3 separate regions of the Homo sapiens genome follow, and all the other regions are linked to region 1. Evidence: fine-mapped expression QTL. A gene starts in region 1. Each other region holds a variant in brackets. All regions are shown on one strand. Distances are from middle to middle. Region 1 holds the start of INIP (INTS3 and NABP interacting protein). Region 2 has its middle 11 kb from the start of SNX30-DT. Region 3 overlaps INIP (INTS3 and NABP interacting protein).

Region 1 (2,764 bases):
AGAGGCAATGTGTGAGATTTAAGAACTCAGGCCTTAGCATCTGGCAGATCTTTAAATTTGAATCTTAGCTCGCTACTTGACATAGAGCAAGAAACATGAGTCTCAAATATAAATCAGGGAACAGCAGGACCAGAGCTGATGCACAGGAAGCACCTCGCATTGTAGAAGGCACTCAATAGCTGCTTGGTATAGAGTAAATACATGCTTGGTTTTCAGTAAATAAATACTTGATATTGAAACGATTATTTCAGTCATTGATCCATGCACAAGAAAATTGTGCATCATAAACATTTTACTCTTGAGCAAACATCAATTATTAAAAACATATGTTCAAATTCATTATCCATTCTATTTAATTAAATGCTTGAGGCGCTTGGGGAGCTTACATTTGTGATTTAAGTCTGTGCGTTTTTCAAATGTATCTTTCGGAAGAGATTAAGACACTGCAATTTTAAGCAGGGCAGGTGGCTCACGCCTGTAATCCCAGCACTTTGGGAGGCTGAGGTGGGCAGATCCCTTGAGGCCAGGAGTTCAAGACCAGCCTGGGCAACAAAGCGAGACACTGTCACCATAAAAAATATTTTTTTAAATTAAAAAGAGTGCAATTTGAACACATGTCAATATACGATTACCTTTTAATTCAAATGTGTAGCTATCTACTGTGCTGGAATCAGGTGGGCAGCAGGTGATCCCACTAGTGGCAACTTGGTGTTCTGCGATGTGGCACATCCACTTCTTAAATGCAGATTATTGCACTGTAATAAAAATCCTCCATATTCAGTGCTTTCATTGTGTATAATTATGTAAACTGTAGACAAAAAATATTCCTGAATTTGTGTGTGTGTGTGTGTGTGTGTGTGTGTGTGTGCGGATGCGCAATCCGAGATGGTTGTTAAAGCTCGAAAGCGAGTTTAGCTTCTAGAGTCGCCCCTCCTCCGAGGCCCAGCCGAGGTGGACTCGCACCGTCGCAAGACCGGCCAGGCGGTGGCAATGAATAAAAAGCCAGTCTTGGTGCTAGGGACCCAGGTGTTCTCCGTCCCGCCCCTGCCTGGCAGCCCCGCCCCTCCCCCGCCCCGGGCCACGCCCCACCCTGGCCCAGCCCCCAAAAGTACCGTTTGCATCTCCCGTGAGCCTCTTCGACTGTCACTCTTTGGAAAAAAAAGTGACGTCTGCACTGAGGTGGCCGCTAAAGTGCGAATCACGACGGGCGGTGGCCGTTGGGTCCCGGCGGGAGGCGGGGTTTCCGCTCCCTGGGGCGCACGTCAGTCAGGAGGCGGAAGCGCAGCGGGGGCGGGAAGGTTGTAGTGCCGCGAGTTGAGCTCCTCTTGCCTAAGTGGTCGCGCCCCCTTTAAGAGCAGCGATTGTAAGGAGAGGCGGTCCCGGTGTCCTCGGGTCCCAGGTAAGTACGACAGTCTGGAGGCACCGGGCAATAGAAAAGTGTGGCTCCGGTGCTAACCTGTCGCCGCCGTCTTTGTTGCTACAGGCAGCGACCTCCCTTCCGACCTTGCCACCTAACATTTCTGGCTCCTACTTGCTTCCTTCGTCTCGTTCACAGCCCGGGCCCAGCCGGCTCTGCACATCCGTAGGCAGGGACCTTTCTGGCACGCCAGTCTACCCTGTCACAAGATGGCCCTGTTGTCCTCCAGTCCTAACCCCGCATTGCTCGCTCTGTGTTTCAGCCGCTGGAGACACCTAACGATTCATTTACTAAAAACCGGTGTCTGTTTTCTATCCCTTGTGTCTTTCCCGGGCTCCCTAGACTAAGGCATCACTCTTTGCTGCCAATGAAATCAATTCTTTGCCTCCGGCACTGTGCCCACCTTTTAAAGAGCGGGTTTGTTAAGCTTTTTTTTTTTTTAATTAATAGTATGGTTGCTTGAATAAGACTTTATTTTCCCTTCTGAAAGCAGGATTAGGGTCTTGCTCATCTTGGATCTCCCCAGGATTTAGTACGAAAGCACGAAGTTTGGAAACCAGCAGCCCAAATAATTCCTACTAGCTCTATGACCCTGGGTACGGTTTCCTCATCTATAAAATGGTGATAAATAAATAAAGGAACTAATTTCGAGCATGTTACACAGTGTATGGTGCAGAGCAGATACAGTACTCCTTTACCTTTTTTAGCTTTCAGTGTACACAGTAGTTTTTGGGTATGTGTTTTAGACGAATGCAGAGACACCATAGATGAATGATTTTTCTTCCTAGCACCATGATTATATTGACTCTATCAATTGGTTGATATATTTGGTAAATACAACCTAATGACGTTTATTAAAGACAGTAATGCTAAATGGTATGAACATCTGCAAGAATAAACAATGCCGTATTTAATTAAATGCTTGAGGCACTAGCAGAGTTTACATTTGTTTCAGTCTGTGTACATTTCAAATGTATCTTTCTTTCTTTTCTTTTTTTTTTTTTTTGAGACCGAGTCTCGCTGTCTCGCTCTGTGGCCCAAACTGGAGTGCAGTGGCGCGATCTCGGCTCACTGCAACCTCCGCCACCCGGGTTCAAGTGATTCTCCCGTCTCGCCCTCCCGAGTAGCTGGGACTGCAGGCGCTTGCCACCACACCCGGCTGATTTTTTTTTTTAATTTTATTTTTAGTAGAGACTGGGTTTCACCATGTTAGCCAGGATGGTCTCGATCTGCTGACCTCGTGATCCGCCCGCCTCGGCCTCCCAAAGTGCTGGGATTACAGGCGTGAGCCACCGCGCCCGGCACAAATGTATCTTTCTGAAGAGATTAAGAAACAGCAAACATTTC
Region 2 (2,764 bases), 22 kb before region 1:
TAACGTGGAGTTCAGGGGTTTTTGGGAGGAAGACTATCGAGGTAAGGTGCCTTTTTTTTTTTTTTTTTTTTTTTTGAGATGGAGTTTTGCTCTTGTTGCCCAGGCTGGAGTGCAATGGCACAATCTCGGCTCACTGCAACCTCCACCTCCCGGGCTCAAGCAATTCTCCTGCCTTGGCCTCCAGAGTAGCTGGGATTACAGGCATGCACCACCATGCCTGGCTAATTATTTGTATTTTTAGTAGAGATGGAGTTTCACTATGTTGGCCAGGCTGGTCTCAAACTCCTGACCTCAGGTGCTCCACCTGCCTCGGCCTCCCAAAGTGCTGGGATTCCAGGTGTGAGCCACCACACCCGGCCAGTAAAGTGCCATTCTAATCACATCATATATGTTAATCTGTGTTGCATTGCTGTAAAGGAATACTTGAGACTGGATAATTTATAAAGAAAAGAGGTTTATTTGGCTCACAGTTTGCAGGCTGTACAAGAAGCACAGTGCCAACATCTGCTTCTAGTGAGGCCTCAGGAAGCTTATAAAGTCATGACAGAAGGCAAAGGAGAAGCCAGCCTATTACGTGGCAAGAGAGGAAGCAAGAGAGAGGAGGAGGTCCCAGGCTCATTTAAACAACCAGCTCTCTTGCCAGGTGTGGTGGCTCATGCCTGTAATCCCAATACTTTCGGAGGCCAAGGCAGGCAGATCACCTGAGGCCAGGAGTTGGAGACCAGCCTGGCCAACATGGTGAAACCTCATCTCTACTAAAAATACAAAAATTAGCTGGGCGTGGTGGTGCATGCCTGTAATCCCAGCTACTCAGGAGGCTGAGGCATGAGAATCATTTGAACCCAGGAAGTGGAGGCTGCAGTGAGCTGAGATTGCACCACTGCACTCCTGCCTGGGTGACAGAGTGAGACCCTGTCTCAAAAACAACAACAACAACCACCTGTCTTGTGAACTAACAGAGTGAGAACTCACTCATTACCATGGGGAAAGTACCAAGCCATTCATAAGGGATCCACCCCCATGACCCAAACACCTCCAACAAGGCGCCACCTCCAACACTGGGGATCACATTTCAATATGAGATTGGAGGGGACAAACATCCAAACTAGATCATCATATCAAGGGCACATACTGTCAACATGGCTTATCACTGAGGGTGTTAAACTTAATTGCCTGGTCAAGGTAGTGTTTGCCAGGTTTCTCCACTGTAAAGTTACTCCCCTCCCCGATATGGCATAATGAATTAGACATCAATAAAGCTGTTACAAGAAAAGATGAATGATAATCTGGAGAAAGTTATTTGGAACACAAATGACTCACAAGGTATTAATATCTTTCTTTTTTTTTTTTGAGACGGAGTCTCGCTCTGTCGCCCAGGCTGGAGTGCAGTGGTGCGATCTCGGCTCACTGCAAGCTCCACCTCCCGGGTTCACACCATTCTCCTGCCTCAGCCTCCTGAGTAGCTGGGACTACAGGCACCCGCCATCACGCCCGGCTAATTTTTTTTTTGTATTTTTAGTAGAGACGGGGTTTCACCGTGTTAGCCAGGATGGTCT[T/C]GATCTCCTGACCTCGTGATCCGCCCGCCTTGGCCTCCCAAAGTGCTGGGATTACAGGCGTGAGCCACCGCGCCCGGCCCAAAAAATACAAATTATCAAAATATGTATTCAGTCTCACTAGAGATCAATAAAATGTTGATGAAAACAAAAAGATACAATTTTTGCTTGTCCTACCAGCAAATGTTAAAAGACCAATAAAAGGTAAGGAATCATGCTTTATGAGATTTAAACAATTTGGGGGGCCTTCCTCAAGAAAAAGAATTCAAAATTTCAAATATAAAAATTAGTACAAGGCCAGGCACTGTGGCTCATATCTGTAATCCCAGCACTTTCATAGGCCGAGGCAGGAGGATTGCTTGAGCCCAAGAGTTGGAGACCAGCGTGGGCAATATAATGAGACCTTGTCTTTACGAAAAATTTTAAAAATTAGCTGGGCATGGTGATGCACACCTGTAGTTCCATCTACTCAGGAGGCTGAAGTGGGAGGATGACTTGACCCAGGAGTTCAAGGCTACAGTGAGCTATGATCATGCCACTGCACTCCAGCTTGGGAGGCAGAGAGAGACCCTATCTCAAAAAACAAAGAAACAAACAAACAAAAAACCCTGATACAAAGCTGAATATTAATTTGGAAAATAAATCGCCACAATTATAAATTTTACAAAACTGATAAATACCGCAAACATCACAAACGTATTAAAATTATTAGCTGCCTGGCACACCTCTATCATACTATTTTCCATAGTCTTTGAATGCATATTCTTTACTAAATTCTTCATATGACAACTATTTTATAGTATTCCAAAGAGAATAGAAAGATAATGAAGTCTTTCTTCTAGCATGGCTGATTGAAATTTGCTTTGCTTTTTTATTATTAGTAGTTTACAAAACTTTTTTTCAACTTCAAATTTGTTGTTGGTAATGTACGAAAATGCCCCCTGATACCTCAGCAGGCTTACCACCGGACATTCTTGCTATTTATAGTACTGTTACAGATTTTTGGCCTACAAACCCAGGAATTCTTATTCTGTTTCAGGTAAGTTCCACCTAAAAGAAAGAAAGAAAAAAAAAATCTAGGCCCAGGCACAGTGGCTCACGCCTGTAATCCCAGCACTTTGGGAGGCTGAGGCAGGCAGATCACAAGGTCAGGAGATCGAGATCATCCTGGCTAACACGGTGAAACCCCATCCCTACTGAAAATACAAAAA
Region 3 (2,764 bases), 34 kb after region 1:
TGGGGGACACAAAGGTGACTGGTACCTGCTCTTTTAGGAGGTCACCGTGCAGAGGATCCTATTCTGGTACACCAATAGTTATAAAGCAAGCCACAGCCTAGGCAACATAGTGAGACCCCTGTCTCTACTAAAAAATTAAAAAAAAAAAAAAAAGATTGGCTAGGTGTGCTGGTGCATGCATAGAGTCCCAGCCACTCGGGAGGCTGAGGTGGGAGGATTGCTTGAGCCTGGGAGGTTGAGGCTGCAGTGGGCCATGATTGCACAACTTGGCAACAGAGTGAGACCCTGTCTCTAAATCAATCAATCAAGCGAGCCAGAATGCAGTAGTGGCCTGAGAGAGGCATCCTGGAACGCAGTGCGGTCTGGCTAGGCTTAGAAGTATTCATGTGATTTTTACCTGACAAGGGAAGGAAGAGCTGCTCCACGTGCAGAGCAAGGTTTCAGAATGAGAGGAGAAGAGCAGGCACTGCAGAGGGTGAGGGAAAGGGCAGCAGTGGACTGGGAAGCCCTCAGGTGGAGGTCAGCATTGCTTCCCTCAGATCATGGGTGAATTTGAGGAACTCAGTTAATATCTTTGTATGTTCCTCCCTCCATAAGGTGAGAACAAGCACATGCTCTGCCCATGTCAGAAATTGTCTAGACTAGTGTTTTTCAAAGTGCAAAAGCCTCAACCCATTACTGAGTTGAGAAGCCAACTTAATGGTTTAACAGGATTGACCAGCATTTTTTCCGAAAAAATCAAAAACATCTGAGTGTACTGCATATAGAAATAGGTGGTTTTGCCTCATGAATATTCTGTTTCTGTGTGTTCCTATATTTTACTTTGTATTGTGTTGGTTTTTTAAGAGACAGTCCTGCTCTGTCATCCAGGCTGGAGTGCAGTGGTATAATCATAGCTCACTGCAAGACTCCTTGAATCCCTGGGCTCAAGCAATCCTCAACCCTTAGCCTCCCAAGTAGCTGAGACTACAGGCACATGCCACCATGCCCAGCTAATTTTTTTTTTTTTTTAATTTTTGTAGAGACAGCATCTTGCTATGTTGCCCAGGCTGGTCTTGAACTCTTGGCCTCAAGCAGTCCTCTCGATCCTCCCACCTTGGCCTCCTAAAGTGCTGAGATTACAGGTGTGAGCCACTGCATCTGGCTTACTTATTTTGTCTATTGTCTGTTCCACTAGTATGTAAAGTCTTAGAGAGCAAGAATTTTTGTTTATTTCTTTCTCTTCCTCCTTTCCTTTCTTCCTCTTTTACTTCGTTCACTACTGTATTCCACATAAAATATATTTGGCATATAGTAGGTGTTCAATATGTTGAAGGAATGAAAGAATTTATAGACTTGAGTTGCAATATAAAATGTATTTTTTTTTACTGTGAGTTATGGCAAAAAAAGTTTTGAAAGCCGCTTCTAAATAATGCAGATGTCAGTGCTTTG[A/TATGA]CCCTGGAATAAAAACTGAAATGACTTAGTGATTTCAAAGGCATATTTGTTTTCCTGAACAATCTATAAACTGTCTCATTAAGTTGTCTCAGTTATTTGCTTCACTTCGGCAACAGAACCTCAGCCTTTACATGTGTTTAAAGCCTCTTGAGGCAAAGGATTTGGAAAATATGGTTACATGGAGAATAGAAGATAATGAGAGAGAGTATCAATTCATTAGTGCAGTTGAACCCCTCTATTGGAATCCCATCAGCGAGCACAAGTCCCATTTCAACAGCAATAAATGCAACAAGTATTTGCTGAGTGCTTTTCTTATTCACCTCTATATCCATGGTGACTTCTACACAGTTGATACCCACGATTCTTTTTTAAAGAGATGGGGTCTCACTGTGTTGCCCAGGCTGGACACTGGGCTCAAGTGATCCTCCCACCTCAGCCTCCCAAGTAGCTGTGACTATAGGTGTGTGCCACCATGCTCAGCCACAGGCTTTTTTTTTTTTTAACAGGGTCTCACTCTTGTTGCCCAGACTGGAGTGCAATGGCAGCATCTCAGCTCACTGCAACCTCTGCCTCCCAGTTTCAAGTGATTCCCATGCTACAGCCTCCTGAGTAGCTGGAATTACAGGTGTGCGCCACCACGCCCAGCTAATTTTTTATGTTTTTAGTAGAGACGGGGTTTTGCCATGTTGGCCAGGCTGCTTCTCCAACTCCTGGCCTTAAGTGATCCACCTGCTTCGGCCTCCCAAAGTGCTGGGATTACAGGTCTGAGCCACCGCACCTGGCTGGCCACAGGCTTTTTAAAAATGTGCAAATAATGAACATGGACAATGAGGAAGAGAAGGAGGACAGTCACTGTCCTCAAGAGTCTGACAATCTAGATTGGTTGAGACAAGCACACTAAAAACCAATCCTAGGAGCAGCCTGGAGAGGAGAGAATGGGGACAGGAGCCCGAAAGGACCAATAAAAGCTACATCAGAACAAGCATTGGAACTTGGCTTTCAAGATGAGACGGTTTCAGCCAGGAAAGAGAGCAACATTCAGCCAGGCGCGGTGGCTCACGCCTGTAATCCCAGCACTTTGGGAGGCCAAGGCGGGCAGATCACGAGGTCAGGAGATCGAGACCATCCTGGCTAACACGGTGAAACCCCGTCTCTACTAAAAAATACAAAAAAAAAAAAAAAAAAAATAGCTGGGTGCGGTGGTGGGTGCCTGTAGTCCCAGCTACTCGGGAGGCTGAGGCAGGAGAATGCGGGAACCCGGGAGGCGGAGCTTGCAGTGAGCTGAGATCGAGCCACTGGACTCCAGCCTGGGAGACAGAGCCAGACTCCGTCT

The links. PIP is the estimated chance that this variant, and not a neighbour inherited with it, causes the effect.
Region 2: its variant is fine-mapped to the expression of INIP in blood mononuclear cells (TOPMed, PIP above 0.99). The same link has a PIP of 0.9 or more in whole blood.
Region 3: its variant is fine-mapped to the expression of INIP in whole blood (TOPMed, PIP above 0.99). The same link has a PIP of 0.9 or more in fibroblasts, lung, lymphoblastoid cells and monocytes after interferon gamma.

What each region holds. Positions count from the first base shown.
Region 1 is chr9:112,716,622-112,719,385 of GRCh38, reverse strand. It overlaps INIP (INTS3 and NABP interacting protein), which reads left to right and starts at 1,269. Exons shown (of 5, transcript NM_021218.3): 1 at 1,269-1,399. RefSeq lists a silencer at 1,058-1,217 and an enhancer at 1,588-1,687.
Region 2 is chr9:112,738,278-112,741,041 of GRCh38, reverse strand. No RefSeq gene overlaps it. Among named protein-coding and RNA genes, the nearest start is that of SNX30-DT, 11 kb to the left of the region's middle. The variant T/C (reference allele first, on the strand shown) is at 1,557.
Region 3 is chr9:112,682,636-112,685,399 of GRCh38, reverse strand. INIP (INTS3 and NABP interacting protein) reads left to right here. Exons shown (of 5, transcript NM_021218.3): 5 at 1-1,474. Among named protein-coding and RNA genes, the nearest start is that of INIP, 34 kb to the left of the region's middle. The variant A/TATGA (reference allele first, on the strand shown) is at 1,432.